3 linked regions of the Homo sapiens genome follow. The protein of the gene in region 3 purifies or fractionates together with the protein of the main gene of each other region. This does not show direct contact. Each region holds a gene or a part of one and is shown on either strand. Other genes may lie near its edges. The genes, in order: ABAT, C8orf82 and ETFA.

The links.
Region 1: the proteins of ETFA (region 3) and ABAT fractionate together in Homo sapiens (co-fractionation; 2 studies listed by BioGRID). This does not show direct contact.
Region 2: the proteins of ETFA (region 3) and C8orf82 purify together in Homo sapiens (affinity purification with mass spectrometry; 3 studies listed by BioGRID and IntAct, with this or other methods). This does not show direct contact.

Annotation. Positions count from the first base shown.
Region 1 is NC_000016.10:8,669,782-8,677,616, reverse strand, and holds the start of ABAT (4-aminobutyrate aminotransferase, mitochondrial isoform 1 precursor), read right to left. Parts: upstream 3,001-7,835; 5' UTR 2,906-3,000; intron 1-2,905. UniProt on the Homo sapiens protein: Catalyzes the conversion of gamma-aminobutyrate and L-beta-aminoisobutyrate to succinate semialdehyde and methylmalonate semialdehyde, respectively. Can also convert delta-aminovalerate and beta-alanine.
Region 2 is NC_000008.11:144,526,023-144,533,969, forward strand, and holds the start of C8orf82 (UPF0598 protein C8orf82), read right to left. Parts: upstream 3,090-7,947; 5' UTR 2,895-3,089; coding exon 2,739-2,894; intron 2,051-2,738; coding exon 2,002-2,050; intron 1,766-2,001; coding exon 1,320-1,765; 3' UTR 1-1,319. Other genes in the region: ARHGAP39 (rho GTPase-activating protein 39), read right to left, coding at 4,400-4,594, 4,680-4,849, 6,283-6,374, 7,104-7,303.
Region 3 is NC_000015.10:76,308,386-76,316,279, reverse strand, and holds the start of ETFA (electron transfer flavoprotein subunit alpha, mitochondrial), read left to right. Parts: upstream 1-4,810; 5' UTR 4,811-4,891; coding exon 4,892-4,930; intron 4,931-7,894. UniProt on the Homo sapiens protein: Heterodimeric electron transfer flavoprotein that accepts electrons from several mitochondrial dehydrogenases, including acyl-CoA dehydrogenases, glutaryl-CoA and sarcosine dehydrogenase.

The sequences.
Region 1 (7,835 bases), on a different chromosome or scaffold from region 3:
TATCCTACAATACACAGGGGAGTCCCACAACAAAGAATCCTCTGACCCAACTGTCAACAGTGCCCAAAATGAGAACCCCTCATCTAGACCTGTCTCTTTTCTGATGTCCAACCCCAACAAACCTCATTCAAAGACGAGGAACTGAGGTTCAGAGACATGAATGACTTGCCTAAGTTTCCATAGACAGCCACTACCAGTGGCCAACTCTCTACTCCATCTGGCTTCAGGGTCTGTGGTCCATTCCACATACTACACTGTCTCTCTAGGAAGACATCCCCTTGTCCCCAGGCACCTTGGCCCTGGCAGATTATCTACGGCAAGGGTTACAAGTTTTGCCTTAAGGCATAAGCACCTCCCCACTTCATGATTAGAGGTTTTATGACTTTGCACTTGTAATCATTGTTTCTGCTCATTTTGCTGTGTGCTAAACATTTTATGAGGATTAACTCATTTTACCCCAAGGATATGTCACAGAGAGGTTAAGATCAGACACTAAGTGGCAGATTTGTGCTCTCGACCCAGATAAGAGGTCTCCAGGGACCAACCTCTCGGCCTCTCTACCGTGGTCCTCCTCATGCTTTGAACTTCGCCTTGGCAAAGTTGGGGCACAACAACCAATCCTTTAGCTGGGAACTGGGTGGGGGCAGAAACAGAGAGAGCCTCTACTTCAGACCATGCTGCCCAGCTGGGTGGTCCTAGAGAATCTGCCAGAATTTCAGCTCTTTTCCCATGCAATGCCCCAGGAGAAAAGACGCAGGCCTCTGAACAGAGATGAGACAATGTGCAGGGAACTCAAAGCCAGAGGGCGTGGGCAGGGGCTAAGAGGGAGGGGACCTTGGAGGGAAGGAATATGACATCCTCAGGACCTGTCCAAAGTTCTTGGAGCAAACCCAGCTATGCAAGTGAGGTTCCTGCAGTAGCCTCCACTCCAGCATCTCATTCTCATTAGCTGCAACTGATCTTATTAGCTATCCTGGGTCAGTTTGGATTTTGGCAAGCCTAGATTTGGCAATGGCCTCAACACAAAGATCGCACGGGGTAAGCAGGGATGCGCTGACACCCAGGAATGGATTCCACGAGGCAGCCTGCTGGGGGATGGCATTGAGTTCCAGCTCTGCCCCTTCCTGGCTTCATGACCTTTGCAGAGCCTTGGCGCTTCCTCTGACAAGTGGGGACTTGGGACCCAGCAGTCCCCAAGTCCCCATTGTAAATGTGAGGACTGGGGCTTGTGTCAGGGATCCTAGCACCTTAAGGGTCCTGGAGGGGTTGGGGCCAGCTGTCTCCCACAGGCTGGGTGACCTTGAGCAAGTCTCTTCCCCTTTTGTGCCTCTGTGTGTTTAACTGTCAAATGAAGGGGCCACGTCTTTAATGCAGAAGCCCTTTTAGGTCTTAGGACTCCAGACTGGACCATTTACCTCTCCCCGTGGCTAACCTCTTTGGGCCTCGAGAAAACACATTTCTCTATGACTCCACGCCGCAACACAGGCTCCAAAGAGCAAGACACAACTCACTGCCTCCCTCTCTCCTGCCTCCCAACCTGACCCACCAGAGAAGAGCTCTTCCCACCCCCTCCCCACCCCCAGGTCACCAACATCCTGTCCCTTAGTCTAGCTTCATCAAAGCAGCAAAGCCAACACTGTCTCCTCCCCAGTGGATGGGCCCAGCAGCACCCATTTCTCTTGGCTGAGTGCCCAGGGAATTCCACCAGGCAATGTCCACAGGCGCTTGCGGGGGTGCACACTTTAGGGGGGAAATGCGGGCCCTCTTGGAAGAGGGCCAGCTGTCCTCCCAGACTGCAAGAGAGAATGCATTGAACACAGCCTTTGTGCGTGTGTTGGGGCAGGGAGCGGGGGAGAGGTGGCGGGTGGTCTCTGCTGGTCCTGCTGCCTCAGAGGCCATCTCTGTTGTCAGAGTTTGAAGACTCCTGGAAGGGCCTCTAGGCCCCAGATCCCAGTTTTAAGAGCTCCAGTCTTACTAAATCTCGCTGAACCCCCTCTAGTCTTACCTTGGCCAGGGTGGGTGAGGAAAGGTGAGAGGATGTGAAATAGGTGGGGCAGCCAGGTGTGGGAGTGGAGTTGGGGTGAGGTGGAGAAGGATGGGATTGGGAGCGGTGGGAGGATGGTGCAGGGGGTTACTAGGATGGGGTTTGTGTGAAAGGGCTTGGGTGGAGTGGAGGGAGGTGGATGACTTGGAGGGGTGGCCAGACCTTTGCCCTGCTCCTGAGTATGAAGGTCCCTCATTTTACATCTTTACTGGGGAGGAGAGGGGAAATCCCCAAAAGCCTTTAATGTGGTGGTGTCAGAGGCCACCCTGCCTCTCTGACGGGTAGGGAGGGGTCTCCGGCAGGGCTAAGGGTGAATCATCTATCTCTCCAGAGCCCAGTATCTGGGGTGGGAGGGTGACTTGCAGAGTCTCTGCTCCGGGATTTCCTTGTCTTATGATGGGGGGAGAGCTTCCATTTGTCATGGAGGGGGAGGTCACTGTAATTTATAAGCTGAGAAGACCCCCATTATTCCGAAAGAGAGGGGAGAAGGAAGACACCCAAACTTAGTTTTCTAAGGATGGGGAAGGGGCATCAGTCTCCCAAGAGGTGAGGGGGCTCTAGAGACCTGGAGACCACTTTTTGGGGCCGCATTCTATTTCAAGCGGTAAAAGGGAGAGGACTTCTGTCTAGAGCTGGAGCCAGGAGGAAGGGCCCATTTCTGAAGGAGAAAGGAAGGTATTTTGCTCTCTGGGGGGTGGGAGCCCCTGTCTTTTCGGGGGAGGGCCCCGCGTCTTGGGAAGATGAGGGCTCCGTTTCCAGGAGAAGATGCCCAGGTTTTGCTCCTGGGGGCAGGGCAGAAGGACCTCCTCTCGGCTCCCCTCGGAAGGGCCCGTCCCAAGCCACCCGGCGCCTCGCGCTCACCTCCAGGCCCCGTCTCCGATCTGCGGGATCCGATCCGCCGGGTTCCGACTTGCGGGATGCGCGCCCCGAGTTCCGGCAGCGCTGGGTGTCTGCTCGACTTCCCCCAGCGACTCGCCGGACTCCCTGGCTCCGCCGAGCGTCCCGGCCAATCAGCGCCGCCAGCCCCGGCCCTCGCTTTCGCCACAGCCAATGGGTGCGCCCGCCACGGGCCACCGCCCCCAGGAGGGAGGTGGCAGGCGGGGCGGGGGCAGAGTCCAGCCTCCGGGGGCGGGGGAGACGGGGGCTGGGGCGGGACCCACCAGAGGGACCGCGAGGGCTGGGAGGGAGTCCTGGGACTGGGGAGGAGACGGCTGAGGACCCCCGTCAAGTTGTGGGGACCCTGACCCTCTGGGGGGCAGCTCCATAGGTTGATTTAACCTGGATCTTAATGGGCCATTTACACCCTCAGGGCTGCAGGCGAGTGTAACTCCACCTCCACCCGCGTCTCGGATCCGGTCTCTGGAGCTCCAGAGTCGGAATCAGAAGGGGTTCCTTTGCGGAGAAGGGAAGGAGCATCCCGCCCTCCCCACCTCACTCCCCATCTCGGCGCTCAGGGCCCTGCCAGCCCTTCTTGCTCCCAGCTACTTTCCTCCGCCTGGCCCCAGCGCTCCGGAAGACAAACAGGGCGCTGGGAGTCAGAGGTGGTTCCTTCTGCATGACCTGGAGCAGGTCACTGCGCCTCCTGATCCTCAATTTCCTGAAATTGGGACAACAGAGATTGTACCTCCTTCGTGGGTATAAACGAGACCCTAGATATGATGAAGGTGCCTTTCTACCGTTGTATAAAATGCTGTGTGGAAGATAATTAATACTCAGGTGTGACGGATGGATAGCCCCCCCACAGCTTTCTAGAGGTATTTGGAAAGAGGATGCAATCTTTCAGTGACAAAATCAAAGACACAAAGAACTGCTCATCAAGACAACAGGCGATCACCAAGTCCTCATAATGAATGAATGGATGGATGGAGAGTACAGACCTTAAAGGCAGAGAAAGAGTTCAGCTTGGTTCTCCCCACTCACCCTGATCACTGATAACTTGGTCTGTGGAGTCTTGTAGAACCCTGAGGTCTCTCCTCCTGCTGTCCAGGAATCCAGGCTGCCCTATCTCTGATTACACAAGCGCTATAGTCCTTGCAATTAAAGAATTAAGATAAAGTAAACACATAGATAAATAGAAAGCTGCCAAACAAATCATTCACCTCCTAGTGTCACCTCTGGGGACCCTCCCCCCCAACACACACACACACACACACACACACACACACACACACACACAGAGCAGTAAATAAGAATAATTGAGGCCTGGCACAGTGGCTTACGCCTGTAATTCCAGCACTTTGGGAGGCCGAGGCAGGCAGATCACTTGATGCCCAGAGCTCGAGACCAGCCTGGCCATCATGGGGAAACCCCCTTTCTATTAAAAATACAAAAATTAGCCTGGCATGGTGGCACCTGCCTGTAATCCCAGCTACCTGGGAGGCTGAGACATGAGAATCGCTTGAATGGAGAGGCAGTGGTTGCACTGAGGTGAGATGGCACCACTGCACTCTAGCCTGGGTGATTGTCACCTTGCTTGAGGAACTTGATGAGGCCTGTGCTGAAAATCTAGCAATTTTTTCTTAAAACCAAAGCCATGAACATAATCCCCTTTACTACCCTTGACCTGCCCAAAGAAATACAACGGCCAATAAACATGGGAGATGACACTTTGAAAAGGAAAGGCAAGTTAAAACCAAAAGAGGGAAAGAGTTTACCTACCAAAATGACCTTGTTTTTATTATTATAATTACTATTCTTTGCAAAGACTTCAAGGAGTTTCATGTATTGATGATGGCAGTAGAAAGATCACAGCCTTTCTGGAGGGAAATTGGGTATTTCTATTTTAAAAATCTTAAAAGTAAGTTGACCCTTTGATCTAGCAATCCAATCCCTATGAACTTATCTGAAAACATTTAAAGGTACAAAGATTTAATGATAAAGTAGCTTACTACCATTTTGTTTATCACAGGGAAAAACTGGGAACAACTTGAATGCACAACAGCAGGGACTCAGAGGGAAATTGTTGCATGAAATTGAACAATAAACATAGGTATGAAATATTGAATGGGGCTGGGTGTGGTGACACGCCTGTAATTCCAGCACTTTGGGAAGCCAAGGCAAGAGGATCGCTTGAGCCAAGGAGTTCAAGACCAGCCTGGGTAACATAGTGAAACCCTGTCTCTACAAAAAATACAAAAATTATCCGGGCGATGTGGCGCATGCATGTAGTCCCAGCTACTCAGGAGACTGAGGCAGCCTTGAGCCTGGGAGGTTGAGGCTGCTGTGGGCCAAGATTACACCACTGTACTCCAGCTGGGTGACAGAGTGAGACCCTGTCTCAAAAACAAAACAAAACAAATCTCAAAATGTTAAGTTATTTGCAAAAACAGTATATTTGGTACTGTCTTACTTTTTGTTAAACATCTTACTTTTTGTTAAATCTACCAGGTAGAGCTAGATCAATGCTGTGTAATATAACTTTCTATGATGCTCTATATCTGTGCCGTCCCGTGTGGTAGCCACTAGCCACATGGAGGTATTGAACACCTGAAATGACTAATTTTGGTATCCAAGATGTTTAAAAAAAAAAAAGAAAGAAAGAAATAATAAAAAAAGGAAAAGGGAAAAATAAATTTAAAATTTTGGAAAAAGCAATGACTAGTTAACCGAATAACTGTATTTTAATTGTATCTATTTATTTATTTTTTTAGAGACGGAGTCTCGCTCTGTCACCCAGGCTGGAGTGCAGTGGTGTGATCTCAGCTCGCTGCAACCTCTGCCTCCCAGGTTCAAGCGGTTCTCCTGCCTAAGCCTCCTGAGTAGTTGGGATTACAAGCGTGCTCCACCACGCCTGGCTCGTTGTTTAATTTTTTAATTTTTAGTAGAGACAGGGTTTCGTCATGTTGGCCAGGCTGGTCTCAAACTCCTGGCCTCCAGTGATCTGCCTGCCTCAGCCTCCCAAAGTGCTGGGATTACAGGTGTGAACCACCACGCCCAGCCTGTATCTAATTTTAATTTAAGGTGTAACAGTAACAGGTAGCTAGTGGCTATCATATTAAAAGGCACCGATATAGCTAGCTAGCAATGCTGAGTGAAAAACTGTGTTCAGTAGGAGAATGGTTATTTTTGTGTATTGAAATTATAGATTATTCTAATATTACTTTATTTGCATGTCCATGTCAGTAATTTCTTTTTATCCCCTTGGGTTTATTTTTAATAGAGGATAAACTTTACAATGTCACTAATTTCTAATTATTCTGTAATGAATATATATTACTCTGGTACTAAGAAGAAAATATTTAAAATGAAAAACAGAAAGGAAAAGTCTAAACCAAAGGGCCCGGAGTGGTGGCTCACACCTGTAATCCCAGTATTCTGGGAGGCTGAGGCGGGCAGATCACTTGAGGCCAGGGGTTCGAGACCAGCCTGGCCAACATGGCGAAACCCCATCTCTATTTATAAATAATTTTTTTTTAAAAAAGAGTCTAAGCCAAAGGTTGACAAACTATAGCTCATAGACCAAATGTAGTTCATCATGTTTTCCTATGACCATGAGCTAAGATTGGTTTTACATATTAAATGGTTAAAAAAATTCACAAGAAGAATAATGTTATGTGACACATAGAAACTACATAAAATTCAAATTTTACTGTGCATAAATAAAATTTTATGGGAACACAGCCAGGCCTATTTATTTATGCATTGTCTATGGCTGTCTGTGAGCTACAACAGCAGAGCTGAGTAGCTGTGACAGAGACTCTGTGACCTGAAAAGACAACAATATTTACCTTCCAGCCCTTTGCGAAAAATCTGCCGTGTCCTGGTCTAAGGCAATCAAGGGAAATAAGAAGTGTGTGTAGCCATCTTCATTCATCTGTTCATTCATTCATTCAACTAGGTTTTGAGCACCCATTTGTGGGTCAGGCCCTAGGAAAGGGCACTTCTAGAGGATAAAAGGAGCTGCTTTGTCTCTACTTAAGGACTAGGGAGAGAAGGCTATTTAGAGCCAGGTGCTTTGCAAGCTGATTCTCAAATAGCTTCATTGTGATACTTGTGAAGAAAACTGTCAGCATGTGGAAAAAGCCCTTTCCATATTGGCTTCCCTTGCATTTTCTGCCATTCTGCAGTTTTCCTATGGAGCTGCTTGGGGTTGCAGCTGTCTGCCAGGGAATGCAGAGTGTTTCCCAGAGTTTGGCTGAGGCCTGGGATGAAGACTCACCCATACTCTGTGCCTATCAATAAGCTCCTTCCAGAAGCGCAGCTGTAGCTGGGAGGGCCCCCACTGCACTCTGGAGAGGAGAAATGAAAACAAAGGCAAGGGTGAATGAGGCTCCAAGGGTACCAGTTGTCTCCACAGGAGAGACTCTTAGAGATCAGCAGCCCATTGTACAGAAGAGGAGACTGAGGCCCAGAGAGGAGGAATAACTTGTCCAGAGCCAGATTAAAGCACATATTTTATTGACTAGGCCTGTGATTTCCACATCCCTGGTCACAAAATAATAAAGAGATATCATCTATACAAAATAATAAAGGGCATTTTGATGTGGTGGAAAGGGGATCAACTTGGGAGTCAGACCTAATATTGAATTCTAGTTCCAACTCCCAATGGCTATGTGACTCTGGACATGTCATTTACTCCCTCTCAGTCTCTATGTTCTAATCTGTAAATTGAATAAAGTATCTACCACGTTTTCACATGTAAAAGAAAGAAGATAGACGCTTACCTCACACCATATAAAAAAACTAACTCAACATTGGATCAAAGACCTAAATAAATATAAGACCTAACACTATAAAATTCTTAGAAGAAAACATGGGAAGGGGGAACAGGTGCAATGGCTCACACCTGTAA
Region 2 (7,947 bases), on a different chromosome or scaffold from region 3:
CCCGAAGCCAGGGAAAACAGGGCTGCAGGTGTCCTGTCTCCCAGCCTCATCTGGCCGGCCTCCCCAAACATTTGCCTGTCCATCAGCTCTTCCTCCTTTCGAGTCATGTGGAAAGGGACAGGACCAAGTGGCCTTGGTGTTTAAATCTTGCCCTAAATTGTAACTCACATGATTATTTAAAGTCACTAGAAATAAGTAAGCACAGCAATAAAGTTTTAATGGAATAGCTTTGGCCCAGGCAGAGGCAGTTCCCAGATGTCTCAGGACGCGTGTGAACCCCAAGAAGTTGGGGGCGTTATCTGGGCCCTTGGGATCCATTCCCCTGGGTATAAAGTGTTGGTACGTGGCTCCAGGCCTGGCCCACTCAGCCTCCCCCAGGAAGGCTTCTCAAGTGGAGAAGGTTCTTGGCCTCAGAACTCACGGCGCTGCTGCTCACGCTGACCCCCCACTAGATGCAGATCGGTGTAGAAAGGCCTGCCAGGGCAGGGATGAGGGCCCCAAGCTGGAAGCAGCCCAGAAATCCTTTTACCAGAGGACAACTCCCTAATCCGCTGGGCAGGGGCGGGGTGTCACACGCAGGATTCCGCGACGACTGTCACTGCCTCCTGGGCGCCCCTCTGTGCGGGAGCGGGGAGGGAAGAGGATGGAACGCCCTGTGTCTGCCTCGGGCGCAGTGCGAGGCCCAAGCTGGTCTTTGGGCGGCCCTTGCGCACCTCTGCAGCGCTGCGACCTGGTGCCTGTATCCCCCACGGCCTCCTCTGCTACCCACGAGAGCCGGTTGATTTTCGGCCGGGCTCAGGGAGGGCGTGGCCTCCGCGTTCCCCATCCCCCTCCAGGACCCACGCCCTTCTCGGAGCGCACCAGGGTCAGAGCCGGGATGGTCCCCGATCCCCCAGCGCCCCCACGCCTGGTGACCTTGGGTCGGGCGTCCCCTCACCTGACGCTCCCGCGGCGAGCGGCTCCCCCGCCGTGCAGGTGGCGGCCGGGCCCGAGCAGTCGCCGGGCTGGGAGGGGGCGGGGGACGCTCGCGCACGCGCACCAGAGCCCCGCGCCCGCCGCCAGTGCCTGACGTCTCGAGCGCAGGCCAATCCGGAGGGCGCCGGAGTCGGGTGCGCGGGGGGCGCGCGCCGTGGGGAGCGGGGTGTCCGGGAGGGCCGGGCCGCGGCAGCACCAAGGACAGCGCCGGGTGGGGGCGGGGCCGAGCGCGCAGGCGCACTAGGCTGCCGCGAGCGCGGGTGGCGCGGGCTTTCCGGGGCGTGGAGTCCCGGGGGAGCGGGGCGAGAGGCGCCCGCGGCCTCCCGCCTTTCCCTTGGCCCCGCTCAGGGCGACCGAGCCGCGAGCAGCAGCGGGGCCAGGTCCATGGTGAGGGCGAGGCGGCGGCCCTGCCAGCGCACGTGCGAGGGCAGCGCAGGCGCGCCGGGCCCGTACTCGAAGCAGGCGCTGAGCTCGAAGGCCAGGGCGGAGCGCACCAGGCCCACGCCGCCCGCACGCTCCGGCGCCGGGTGGTACAGGCGCCCGTTGGCGGCCAGGGGCAGCAGGCGCGCCGGCTCGAAGGGCACGGCCAGGGCCTCGCCACCGCCGCAGTAGGAGAGGCGCGGAGGCCCGTGGTCCGCGGTCAGCAGGTGCGTGAAGACCACCGGCCGGTCCTCGCAGCGCAGGAAGTTGCGCTCTCTGCCGCAGGGCGAGAGGAAGGGGAAAGCGGCCTCGTAGCGCCCGCTGCGGTTGGGTCTCAGGCGGGAGAAGAAGGTGACCAGGAACTGCGGGTCTGGGGGATGAAGGGTGCGTGTACTCAGCGCGCTGGGCTCCCAAGGCCTCCGGGCCCAGGACCATACCGAGGGCAGGCGCCGACGGTAAGAGGTTCGCCTGGCCTCACTCAGCGGGGCTCCTGAGCGCAGGACGCCCACTCCTTGGTGCGCTGGGCCCGTCGGCAGAGTCGGGGAGCCCATCAGGGGCTGCCCGGAAGGGAGAAAGAAGGGGCTGGAGAGGGAGGCACAGCATTACCTTTGAAGCAGGTGATGAAATTCTTCATTTTGGAATCATCCAGGAAAAGCTGCAGATAGAGGGCCAGGCCGTGATAAGTCCCAGCGTGCAGGTGGGGGCGGGGAAGCTCAGGAGGTCCTGAAGCTCGGGAGGTCCTGAACCGGCCCGAGCCCACTTTTCCTGCTTGTCTGTGCACACCGCATGCAGGGAGGCGCGTGAAAGGTAAACCTGGGGGCCCCGCCGACTTATCCGCGTCTATGCGCACCTCTGCTCCCTGGTCAGCCAATTCTTTCCCGCACCTTTTCCCTCTTTTCAAGTTTGTAATCAGTTGTACCACCTCCTCCGCGGAGACTACCTGGCCTGCTGCCTCCCGGACATGCAGCTGCCTTTTGACAGGGCTTCCAAAAAAAGGCAGGGCGGCCCGGGTGTCTCCCTGGCAGCGGCGAGAAGTCAGCGCCGGGGCTGGGGACTTGTAGGACAGAGTCCGAAGCTGCACAACGCAGCAGGGACGCGGCCCATGTAGGAGCCTCGGCCCGGACCGACCCAACTCCCCGTCTTTCCAGCGCGCTCTCCTCCAGCTCTGAGGAGTCGAGGTTGCCCACCGCGCAGGCCCCGCCCACCCACCCACCCCCTGGAACGTCCCTCCGGCCCCGCCCCTCGAGCAATGGTCCCGCCCACAGAGCCACGCCCCCCCCCCCGCCCCGCCCAGAGACCTCTCCCGGCCCCGCCTCTCGAGCAACGGCCCTGCCCCCGCCCACCTGGCCCTGGTGGTCCACGTAGTAGAAATACTCGCGGGTCCGCGGCTCCGGACTCTGGCCCTGCGTGTAGGAAACGCCCCCATCCCCGCTGCAGGCCCGGGCTCCCCGCGACCGCGCCAAGGCCAGGGTCCGGAGCGTCCCGCAAGGCGGCCACATTCTCCTCCCGCGCCGGAAGCGACCAGCAGGTCACGCCGGGGGCGGTGCTGCGCGAACTCGCGCCTGCCCGCAGTAGCCCCGCGCTTCGCGTTCCGGCGGCGCCCGCCTCCGCGACCCGGGCCCGGCGCTCTTCCCTCTCCCTCGGGCCTCGGGGGCTCGCCCGCCCTGGCCTTCCGAGAGGCGTGTGCCGGTGACGCCCCTTCCGGTCCGCCCCGCGTCTCTTCCCGCCCCCGGCCGCGCCCACAAGGAACGGGAGGACGCGCAGGGTCCATGTGCACTTTATTCACTCGTGTCGTCGCCTCTCGGGTCCATGCGTCGGGGCGAGCGTCTCAGCCGGGCGGGACCGCAAAGGCCCCGGGACCACCCGACTGAGGACGCCGCCCAGGCCTCGGCAGGGCTGGGGCTTTTGTTTTTAATAAATAAAAACGGAACTCTAAAAAATATATATATAAAAACTGGGGAGAAATTAAGTTTTACAACAATTGGAACTCAAAATTCCAAAATGGAAAATGTACAAACTCGGTCCCCCAGCAGCTCTGGCCCCGAGAACGGACAGTCCCGGGCCCGGCGCCTTCCCGCTCGCTCGTCTCCTGCAGGTCTGGGATGGGGATGGGGTAGAGCTTGGTTTTTGGTCAGAAGCCAAGAAAAAAGATCGGAGAAGAAAAGAAGGAATGACCTCAACTTGCTCTGCACGGAGGACGGGGACGGCTCAGAGATAAATAGCATTTAGGTTAAAACTATGTCATTAGCAAATTTAGTTCTTATATCTTTCCCTCTATTTATATCTCTATACACGGTGGGCTGCGATGCAGGATAGATTCTGGATTTACAGTTACACGAAGAAAAAAATACTCTCGCCCCTCCCCCACCCTGCCCCCAGAATGCCTGCCCAGCCCTGCTCCCTACCCCAGAGGACTTTGGTTTGGGGGCCCCCACCCCACCCACCGAGAGCCTGCCAGGCCCCGGGCCCACTGTCCTGGAGCCCCCAAACTCCTGAGCAGTCACCAGCTGGGGACCACGGGCCGAGGGAGGGAGAGGAGGCGGGGACAGGTCGGGAAGCTCTCTCGGGGCTGGGAAGAGCTGCAGGCCAGGACGAGGACAGGAGAAAGGGAAGGAGAGACCGGGGCGGCTGGGCAAGGCCCAGGCCAGGGCGCGCAGGAGCCACAGGGAGGCAGCCCGGCCCCAAGGAGGCAGCGTCGCTCGGCTCCAGGACACAGAAGGCACTTTCTCGGAGCTGACCCGCGGCCAGCGGAGGGCGAGGCGGTGCCCGCGGGAACTGGCCGTGAGGTGGGGGGCCAGAGGCGCCCTCCCCGCCGCTGCTGTGCCCTGGCTGCACCCTCAGACCAGGCAGAAGACGTGGGGAGCGCCGGGGCCAGGGGCCTGGGGGAGTGGAGGGGGCTCCAGGGCTGGGCCGGGCGATTCTGGCCCCTCTGCCGGGAGAGCGAGTGCGGAGTTCGGCCTGGCTGGGGGCGGCAGGACATCCCTCCTGTCCCCGGGCGCCCCCGCTACAGCACACCCTCCATGAAGCTGGTGTCCAGGTGCTGGATGAGCACCCGCAGGAAGGACATCTCCTTGCGGGTGTTCTCGAAGATGACGCGCGGGTCGTCGGACTGGCAGCGCAAGCAGTTGGGCGCCATCACCATGGCCAGGTTGCTGACATCCATCTTGGTGACCGCGACGTTGGCCGGCTGCACGAAGACCTGGTGGAGGAGCGAGGGTGGGCGCGGAGGGGCGGGGGCGGGGCGGGGAGGGGAAAGCAGCGGGGACCCCCGGGGAGGGAAGTACCTGCAGGAAGCGGATGAGGTAGCACAGCACCATGCGGTTGATGCGGGGCAGCGCGTGCACCACGGCCACCGCCGCCTCGGGGCTGTCGTAGTGCGCGATGCACTGCTCGTAGAACTCGTGCGGGATCAGGGGCTCCTCCAGCTCCCGGTACCACAGCTTCAGCAGGGACGCTGGGGACACAGCACGGGGCTCAGCGGCCCTGCTCGGCGGGCACCCCTGGGCCAAATGGGGTCCCGTGGCGGACATGCATGGAGGGGTGCTGTGGGGGACAGGCTGGGAGGGCCGGCTCATTCTGGACAGGGCCCATCTGGCCAGGCTGGGCCCTGACCCCAGAGGGCCTTTCGGCTCCTGGGGGCCTGAACTCGATCCTGGAGGCATGTGGGTCACGCCAGCAGAGTTGTGCAAAACAGGATTTTTCTCAGGAGTCGTCTGTGTAGCCACCGTGAGGGGGTGTCTGCAGAGCAGGCACAGCTGAAGGGCACAGGGCAGAGAGCAGCAGGTGGGGAGTGGGCTAGACATAGCAGGCACGGCAGAAGGGCACAGGGCAGCGAGCAGCAGGTGGGGAGTGGGCTAGACATAGCAGGCACGGCAGAAGGGCACAGGGCAGGGAGCAGCAGGTGGGGAGTAGGCTAGACATAGCAGGCACGGCAGAAGGGCACAGGGCAGCGAGCAGCAGGTGGGGAGTGGGCTAGACATAGCAGGCACGGCAGAAGGGCACAGGGCAGGGAGCAGCAGGTGGGGAGTGGGCTAGACATAGCAGGCACGGCAGAAGGGCACAGGGCAGCGAGCAGCAGGTGGGGAGTGGGCTAGACATAGCAGGCACGGCAGAAGGGCACAGGGCAGGGAGCAGCAGGTGGGGAGTGGGCTAGACATAGCAGGCACGGCAGAAGGGCACAGGGCAGGGAGCAGCAGGTGGGGAGTGGGCTAGACATAGCAGGCACGGCAGAAGGGCACAGGGCAGGGAGCAGCAGGTGGGGAGTAGGCTAGACATAGCAGGCACGGCAGAAGGGCACAGGGCAGGGAGCAGCAGGTGGGGAGTGGGCTAGACATAGCAGGCACGGCAGAAGGGCACAGGGCAGGGAGCAGCAGGTGGGGAGTGGGCTAGACATAGCAGGCACGGCAGAAGGGCACAGGGCAGCGAGCAGCAGGTGGGGAGTGGGCTAGACATAGCAGGCACGGCAGAAGGGCACAGGGCAGGGAGCAGCAGGTGGGGAGTGGGCTAGACATAGCAGGCACGGCAGAAGGGCACAGGGCAGGGAGCAGCAGGTGGGGAGTAGGCTAGACATAGCAGGCACGGCAGAAGGGCACAGGGCAGGGAGCAGCAGGTGGGGAGTAGGCTAGACATAGCAGGCACGGCAGAAGGGCACAGGGCAGGGAGCAGCAGGTGGGGAGTGGGCTGCATTGCACAGGTAGGCCTCGGGGTGCCCAGCAGACACCTGGGGAAACTGTCCAATGGGCAGAAGGGAGGATGTGCTAGAAGTGACTGGGAAGCCATCACATCACTGGGCAGGATCAGGGTGGACCCCAGAGGCGGAGACAGGGGCCCCTGAGAACCACTGCCTGAGCCAGGCCCGCTCTGCTGCAGCGTGTGTGGGGGACTCACCAGGGACGTGGGGGTCTTCCAGGCCTGTGGGCACCTTCCACTGGTCCACCTGCAGCTTCAGGGCATTCACCTCGTCAATGTCCCCAGGGACCCTGCAGGGCACAGGGCAGGTCTCAGGCAACAGGAGCCTGTGCTGCGGCTTCATGATTCCGCCTGGACACTCCCTCCGGTAGGCCCCTGCTGACCCGGGGAGGGGAGCAAAACCTCAGGACCCCCCGCCACCCCGGTTGGCCTCTTTCCCACGAACGTGGGTGGGTGGCGCTCTTCAGGATTCCTGCCCCACACACCTGCGTCCGAGTGTGGTGCTTCCCCAGGCCACCGTCCCTCCCTGGACCCCTGCTGGCTCCCTGGGTGGATGCCCTCACCAAAGGGCCACTGGGGCTCAACCTGCAAGCCTCAGTTTCCCCAGCTGCCCTCCTGGGGCCTGGGTACCCCTTGCCCTGACAGGTGAGTCATGGGAGTGGGTGGCACCCTGTGCCATCCCTGTTCACAGACAAGGGCTGCCTGTCATCTGAGGCTCCCACTCCAGGCTACCCATGGCTGGTGTCCAAGCACGCTCTGGACCCCTGGTGGCCGTCTCTGCAGGGGCGCCCTCCCTGGCTGGCTGTGCTGCCTCTTTGGAATGGGTCCTGCCCTCTCTCCTGGCCTGCACACCCTCAGGGTCAGCTTCCACACTGTGGCCCCACCCTTCCATCTGCTCTCAGGTATGGGTGCGGAAGCAGCCCAGTGGGCCTGAGGCTTAATGGCCCCTGCATGCCACAGATGCATGGTGGACACATGGCTGTGGCCCCCACACCCGGCGCCCGGGGTTGCCGTGGCACCTGAAGATGCCCTCTGTCTGGTCACCGTTGAGCGCCAGCACCTCCTCAGAGAGCCGTGTCTGCACCCAGGGCAGCTGGCGCTCGGGGTAGCGCTCTCTCTGCATGCCCATGACCTCCTGCAGTGCGCTGCCGAACATGGACGGGCTGAACACGGCGTTCTTGGCATGCCGGATCTCCTCCACGTTGGGCTTCTTCAGCCCCTGTGAAGACAGAGGCTCCGTCCTGGTCTGGCCTGGCCATCCTCAGGACCCCCCGCCACCCCGGTTGTCTTCTTTCCCCGAACATAGGTGGGTGGCGCTCTTCAGAATTCCTGCCCCACACACCTGGGTCCGAGTGTGGTGTTTCCCCAGGCCACTGTCCATCCCTGGACCAGCCCTCCTCGCCCCCCAAACCCTAACTCCTCCTGGGCTGCCCCTGGCTCTGCCTCCCCCTCCTCTCATCCCTGTGAACTCCTGGCTCCAACTAGAGCTACGGACAAGCCCAGCTCCCTGGCCAGAGTCACCGTCTACAGCACCAGCTCACAGGGGCCCTTGGGAAGGTGGGAGTGAGTCCTGGGCCGGCCAGGGCTGTTGGGGAGCACAGCAGAGGCCAAGCTAGCTGAGCTGGGGTGAAACTTCCAGAAGTCTGTGGCAGGGCTGAGAGCGCTGGGGAGGGGTATGATGGGAGCAGCGCATCAGAGAGAAGAGGATGTGGGGAAGGGGCCAGGCTCTTGGGACAGGTCCAGGGAACGGGGTCCTGTCCCTGTGGTGCGGTGTGACTGAGCCCGTTGCCTGCCTTGCTCCTGAGCTGGGGGTCCGGGCCCAGGAAGAGCCCCCGGGGGAGGGTGCAGCCCAGAAGAACACGG
Region 3 (7,894 bases):
GTGTCTGGAGTGGGCACCAAGTATGAAGATGTTTGTATTACATGTTAACACCCACCAGAAACCATCCACCATTGAAAAGCCACCATGTAACTAAGAGGACAAAAATATCTGGGCCAGTTGACCTTAGTCGGCCTCTGTCATCAGCCACCTAGTGCTGGTACTAAGGGCACATGCATGAAATGACTACAGTGGCAGAGACAGAGGCAGCAGGAGCCTAATAGCATGGGCTCCCACTTACGAAGCCTGATTGAGCTACTGCCACTGCTGAATGAGCCCCCAATATGGCACCATTCCTCCAGAAGACCAGCTGGCTCCACGGTGCAAGTTGACAACATGGAACCCCTTCTATCTTGGAAAAGGCAAGATTCATCCTAACCACATGGAACCCCTTTCATCTGGAAAAAGTCGAGATTCACCATGTCAAGAAAACGCATATATTCTGGGTACTGTTTACCTTTCCTGTTCTCAGGACCTTAGTCAGCACCACTATTTGAGGGCTTATCGAGTATCTGATTCACTGTCACAGGATCCCACATAACATCCATCAGGCCAGGGACCCAATTTACTGCAATGGAGGTGCAGAAATGAGTCCGTGATCAGAGGATTCCCTAAGCGATTCACAGGCTGGATCATCCAGACACTGCCAGCCTGACAGGATATCGGAATGGCTGCTGAAGGCCCACTGGAAGCAGCAGCTTGGAGACAGCACTTGATAAGGGTGGGGTTCATCTTCTAGGATACTCCTTGAACCAAAGACCTTTATATAGTGCTGGGACCTGCAGGGTTAGAGGTCTTTGTCCCCAAAGGGGAATCTTTCACCAGAGGACACAGCAAGGGTCCTCTGAGCTATAAGCTACAGCTGCCACCTGGGCACCTTGTATGCAGGGACCAGAAGACCAGAAGGGGAGTCATCTTGGCTAAGAGTAACCTACTTGGGTGCCTCTGAGTCCTCCATTGCCCAATTATGACAATAAACAGGCTTGGGAAGGGCATGCTGGTCAGGGGTTGAGATCTTCAGTCCACGAGGCAGGATGGAGGCATTAGCCACTCAAACCAGGGGAGGTGCTAGCTGAGGGAGGGGGAGATTTAGAATGGATACTGAGGAAGGAGACGATAAGTACCATTGTGACCCCCAGAAAGTTGCAGCAGCTAGGGCTGTAGTTGGTCCCAGGGACCTTTCTCTTCTAAGTTTCCAGCAGGAATCCTGGAGGAGCTGCTCCTGAAATTGGCCTGTGGAGAAGAAAGAGGTGTTGCTCCAAATATGCTGGAGTCATCTTCAAGGGTTGACTGTGGTAGTCCTTGAATCCTCCTTCCTCCACCCTCTCTTTTCTGCCCTTTCTTCTTTGGACAAATATTTACTTTCTTTCTTTTTTTTTTTTTTTTTTTTGTTTGAGATGGAGTCTTGCTCTGTCATCCGGGCTGGAGTACAGTGGTGTAATCTTGGCTCACTGCAACCTCTGCCTCCCAGGTTCAAGTGATTCTCATGCCTTAGCTGCAGGGGTAGGTGGTATTATAAGAACATGCTACCACACCCGGCTAATTTTTGTATTTTTAGTAGTGAAGGTGGGGGGAGGGTCTCGCCATGTTGACCAGGCTGGTCTTGAACTCCTGACCTCAAGTGATCCGCCCGCCTCGGCCTCCCAAATTGCTAGGATTACAGGTGTGAGCCATTGCACCTAGCCCATTGGACACATATTTCTACAAATGTTTGCTGAACATCTAAAAATAAGAAGCAAATAAATAGGCTGGACACGGTGGCTCACGCCTGTAATCCCAGCACTTTGGGAGGCCACGGCAGGCAGATCACCTGAGGTCAGGGCTTTGAGACCAGCCTGACCAACATGGTGAAACCCCATCTCTACTAAAAATACAAAAATTAGCTGGGCATGGTGGTGGGCACCTGTAATTCCAGCTACTTGGGAGCCTAAGGCAAGAGAATCCATTGAAACTGAGGGGAGGTGGAGGTTGCAGTGAGCCGAGATCGCGCCACTGCACTCCAGCCTGGGTGACAGAGTGAGACTCCGTCTCCAAAATAAATAAAATAAAAATAAGTAAATAAAAGGAAACCATAGGTCCTGCCACCAAAGCGGCTCCTAATGGAGTGGGAAAGTCATATGCCTCTAGGGAAAATCTTCTAATAGAAATGTCTTAGCACACACATTTCTGTGGTACATAACCTGGTTGTGATTGTAGAACCCTGATACATCCCAAAGCCTCAGGGGGCGTTTCATGTGTGATCAGAACAGGTCTGGTCAGGTGTCACAGACTTTGCCCATTTTTAGCCTCTCCCTCTGCTCTGAACTGCTCCACCAGGAACCCCCAGGGGCAACGAGACTCTGGGGTGAACAGCTGCTGCTGATTTGCCCAAGCCTGGGAGCTGTTGAATCTGCCCAGTGGGGGCAGGGCGGGGCAGCCGCTCTCCCCTTGTATTTCGCTTTGTCATGGGTGGGGAGGTAGGGAAGGAGGTTAGTTTGTATCCCAGTTTTTTATATGGTTTTTAGTAAAATATCCTTTTCTGTTTTTACTAAAAGTACCCTTCCCTCTTCCTTCCACTCCCATAGGTCTCAGATTCTAGTCCAGTGTGGGACTGGTTAGGAGGTAAATGCAGTGAGACATGGAATACTAAATTGCCCCTCCCACAGGCAGATTGACTGGGGGACAGGGGTCCACAGCTCTGTCGGCAACATGAGTTCAGACGTGTTCGAAGTGGGTGCAACTTAAGTTTAAGATGGGTCCTCACCTCCTTGTTCATAGAGCTACAAGAGTGAAGAAGAGGAAAGGATTAATTCATCCTGCAGAATTGAGAAAGAGCTTACAAAAGAAATGTCACTTGGGCCAGGCGTGGTGGCTCATGTCTGTAATCCCAGTACTTTGAGAGGCCAAGGTGGGAAGATCACTTGAGGCCAGGAGTTCGAGACCAGCCCTGGGTAACCCTGCCCCTACAAAAAAAAATAGCTGGGCATGGTGGCACATGACTGTAGTCCCAGCTACTTGGGAGGCTGAGGCAGGAAGATTGCTTGATCCCAGGAGTTCGAGACTGCAGTGAGCTGTGATGGCACCACCGCACTCCAGCCTGGGAAACAGAGTGAGACCTTGTCTTAAACAGAACAAAAGAATTGTCACTTGATCTGGGTTTTAAAGAGGGCTGTCAGATGGGGAAGGGAATTTCAGACAGAGGGAAGAGCAAAAGCGCAAGGCCCTTAGAGTGCTTGTTAGTTCAGACAAAGCTCTTGCTTCAGGGAATTTACACTCCAATGCAGTGAGATCAGCAATAAACAAACATGTGCATCCTGTTAGGCAGTGATAAATGCCAAGAAAAAAAATCAAACAAGGTGATAGGGCGTCTGGGAGTGGCATGGGTGCTATTTTAGGTGGAGAGGCTAAGGCCGGCCTTTCTGCAAATGTGTTTTTTGAGCAGAGACCTGAATGAAGTGAGGAAGTACGCCACGCGGGTAACAAGAGAAGGCCATTTCAGGCAGAGGGAAGAGCCAGAGTGCAAAACTCTGAGAGGAGCAGGCTTGTGTGCTCAAGAAGGCCTATGTATCTGGGGAACAGTGAGAGAAGAGGGCAGTGGGAGGAGAGGGAGCCACCATAGGGCTTTGAGCAGAGGTCATGATCAGTCCATCAGTTTGGAGAAGAGGCTTCTGGAAACATGGGCAGAAACAGAAAGACCAGTTAGGAGGCTTTGCAATGATCCAGGCGAGAGAGGACAGGGTCCTGAGTGAAGGTGATACCAGCAGAGGAGCAAAGGGGTGTTGGAGGATATTGCTGGATTCTGGTTATCTTTTGAAGGTAGAGTCAACGGGATTTGTTGATAGACTAGATAACATTGGAAAGGTAGGTTGTTGCTGAATTGGGAATTGAGACAATTTCTGAACATACCACTTCCCTCTTAAAAATTTCGTGTTAAAGTCCAGACTCATTAGCAGTCATTTATTCATTTGCTTATTCATTCAACACATACTGATTGAATGCCTAGTATGGACCAGGCATTGTGCTAGGTGTTGCAGGTAGACACAAAATTTAAAAGTAGGGCATACTGGCCGGGCGCGGTGGCTCACGCCTGTAATCCCAGCACTTTGGGAGTCCGAGGCGGGCGGATCACGAGGTCAGGAGATCGAGACCATCCTGCCTAACACTGTGAAACCCCGTCTCTACTAAAAATACAAAAAAATTAGCTGGGCGTGGTGGCGGGCGCCTGTAGTCCCAGCTACTCGGGAGGCTGAGGCAGAAGAATGGAGTGAACCCGGGAGGCGGAGCTTTCAGTGAGCTGAGCTCGCGCCACTGCACTCCAGCCAGGGTGACAGAGGGAGACTCTCTCTCTCTCAAAAAAAAAAAAAAAAAAAAGGGCATACTTTCTGCCCTTACAGATCTTCAGTCAGATGGGTGACACAGACAAGTACTTAGGTTATTACAACCCATGTGACAATTGCTACCATGGGGAAATACAGGGGGAAATAGGGGCATATAGGAAAGGTATCTAATTGGAATTGGCAAGGCTCCACTCGTACCTTACCCCGAGGTCAGCTCAGTTTTGAAGTTCACTCTAGCAGTGCTGACCATTGCGGGGCTGTGAGACAGTACAGTCTGAGCTCGGTCATCAGCGGGTGGCCAGCTTTGTCTCTGCCGCTCCGCGGCCCGGGCTTACTCGAAGGTCCCCGGGGAATAGCCTCACCTTTGCCCCACTTCCCAGTCTAGCCCCTAACTTCCCGCCGTCTATTGGCTGCGCAGCCGCCCAATGGGCAGGCGGAAACCGCGGGCTCGTGCTCCCGGCCTAGGGCGTCTTATCTCGTTCGCGCGTCTCGCGAGCATTAGGTGACTGGCTGAGGCGGCGCCAGTTGGCCGGGCACGGGGCTGCTGTAAGGCCGAGGTTGCGGCGGAAGCGGAGACCATGTTCCGAGCGGCGGCTCCGGGGCAGCTCCGGCGGGCGGTGAGTCCGGACTGGGAAGGCGAACCCAGGGACGGCCCCCCGTCAACCCGCCGTCCCTATGGGGTCTTGCAAAGATCACTGGCCCCCTCAGATTCGACCAGCCCTCGCGCCCGCAGGCCGGTCCCCGCCTGGGACTTGGGTCCAAAGTTCTGGGGCCTACCCTGGACTCCCTGCGGAACGCCAGTTCGGGGCAGAAGTCAGAGGTTTGGGGTCAGGGTGACCCCGAATGATGTGAATTTGCGCGTCTGCTGCCCCTTCTTCTGGCCCACTCTCTGCCCTGCCGTTTCCCACCTTTGTCGGTCACTCTGGGCACTTTCGGGCCGCCAGGTCCTCCACACTTGCTCCACACCCGAGGGAGCAAAATGTCACCGGGGAATGCCCTGTTGGGGAAAGTTTCAAACCTAGATTCCTCCCGGAGGCCGGCATTTCTGGAAGAATTAAACACTTTGGGCGCATCGTGGCTACTCCGACCCACTCACTGTCAAGGGCGGGGGTGGGGTGGGGTGGGAGGCTGCGTGGCCAGTTATGGAAGCTGGTTCTGCTTTCTGGTTTATGGAGCAGGGCTGAATTTAGGTGATTGTATTTGTAAAACCTGCGATCCGATTTGACAGCTTTAGCCAGTTTTGAAAGGCAGACGTCTTTTTATATGCTTCAGGCTGACCTGCTTTTAACCAGCAGATTGTAGATTAGGTTAACTGGTGACAGTGGTACATTTTCAGTGTTTCATTAGTGACAAACCACATTTCTCTCTTCTGTTGTGAGAAGGACTGATAGGAAACATATTTTCCTTCTCATGCTGTGGGAAAGGAGTATTTGGAGACTGACCAGTCACAAGTCAAGTAACAATAATTTATATTGTGGATTGTGTAGTTTTCCTAGTTTACATTTAGGTGAAATGAGAAACAAGATTGGTAAACTTGGGTCAGAAACTTACCTGATGGTTTGTACCTTTTCTCCTTTTTTTTTTTTTTTTTTTTTTTCTGGGCATGGATATTTTCCCATCCACTCCTGGGATTTTTCTCTCTGAGGCATAGCTGGAGCTCTTTCTAGATGTCTGTAGACATTAGACTTTTGTTTGTTTGTTTGTTTGTTTGTTTAAGAGACAAGGTCTGGCTCTGTTTCCCATGCTGGAGTGGAGTGCAGTGGCACGATATGGGCTCACTGCAACCGTCGCCTCCCAGGTTCAAGCGATTCTCCCACCTCAGCTTCCCGAGAAGCTGGGATCACAGGTGCGCATCATCACGCCTGGCTAATTTTTTTTTTTTTTTTTTTTTTTTTTTTGTAGAGACGGGGTTTCCCCATGTTACCCAGGCTGGTCTCGAACTCTTGTCCTCAAGTGATCCACCTGCCTCGGCCTCCCAAAGTCCTGGAATTACAGGCCTGAGCTACCGCACCTGGCCTTAGACATCTTTTTTCTTGTGCGTATTCCTTGTTTAATAAAAAGTTCTGACCCTCCCCTCCCCTAAAGAGTTCAAACCCATGTCTTTCAGGTTAGTGTCCTGTCTTCCCCTCAGGACATGTTTTCTCCCGGTTGGGGATCTAGACATAAACAAGTGAAAATCATGAATTTGGGGAAATTCCAGGAACCTGAGCCAGAAGAATGCTGCTCTATGCAGCAGTTGGAAAACAGTTTTGTGGACAGATTACAAGTCTGGCCTAAGTGAAATTATAATTGTGGTGGGGGATGGAATTTAGGACTCAGTAATTTTGTAGAGCTAACAGAAAAAAATGGAATGATTAAGTAATTTTTACTATCCACATCGTTGGCTAATGTGTATAGACATTACTTCCAGATATTCATTGTGGTTTGCCAAAGACTTTGACCTTGACTTATTTTTAAAATTTGAAGTCAAGCTAAGTAGAATAGCTGTTTTTTTTGTTTGTTTGTTTGTTTGTTTTGAGACGGAGTCTCGCTCTGTCGCCCAGGCTGGAGTGCAGTGGCGCGATCTCAGCTCACTGCAAGCTCCGCCTCCCGGGTTCACGCCATTCTCCTGCCTCAGCCTCCTGAGTAGCTGGGACTACAGGTACCCGCCACCACGCCCCGCTAATTTTTTTGTATTTTTAGTAGAGACGGGGGTTTCACTGTGTTAGCCGGTATGGTCTCGATCTCCTGACCTCATGATCCGCCCGCCTTGGCCTCCCAAAGTGCTGGGATTACAGGCGTGAGCCACCGCGCCCAGCCTAGAATAGCTGTTTTAAAGTCATTAAGAATGTTGGAGAGATTTGGATTTCTAGCATAAAAGAAATGGTGGCAACACTTCTAAAGTGGACCCATATATTAATAGGGACATATACCTGTATTTAACTTTTTAAATTTTGAAATAGTTGCACTTATAGAAAAGTTGCAAGAATAGTACAAAGAAATCTCAAAACCCTTCCCCTGGTTTTCCCAGCATGTTAGCAGTTTGACACATTTGCTTTATCTTTCCACATATATACATAATACTATCTTTCTGAACCATTTGAAAGTATGTTGCAAATGTGCCCTTTACTCCTAAATAATTGAGTGATATTTTAAAAGAACAAAGAGGTTCACTTTCTAACTACACTGTAATTGGCAATATCTGGAAGTTTCACCATAAAATACTGTTTTCTAATCTATGGATGTTCAATTTTGCCAGTTGTCCCATTAGTACAGTTTATAGCAATTTTCCTTATTCTGGTCTAAGATACTCTAGATGTCCTGCAAGTGGTTTTCATGTCTCTTTACTCTGTTAGAAAGGTTCCTCAGCCTTCCTTTGGGTTTGATGACATTGGTGTATTTGAAGAGTACAGGCCTTCTATTTTCCAGACTGTCACTCAATTTGGGTTTGTCTGGTGTTTCCTCATGATTAGATTCAGGTCATGTATTCTTGGTGGGAATATCACAAAAGTGGTATTGTGTTCCCCGTGCATCATATTAGCAGGTACTTAATGTTGGTTTATCCCATTAGTGGTAATGCTGACTTTAGTTACTTAGCCAAA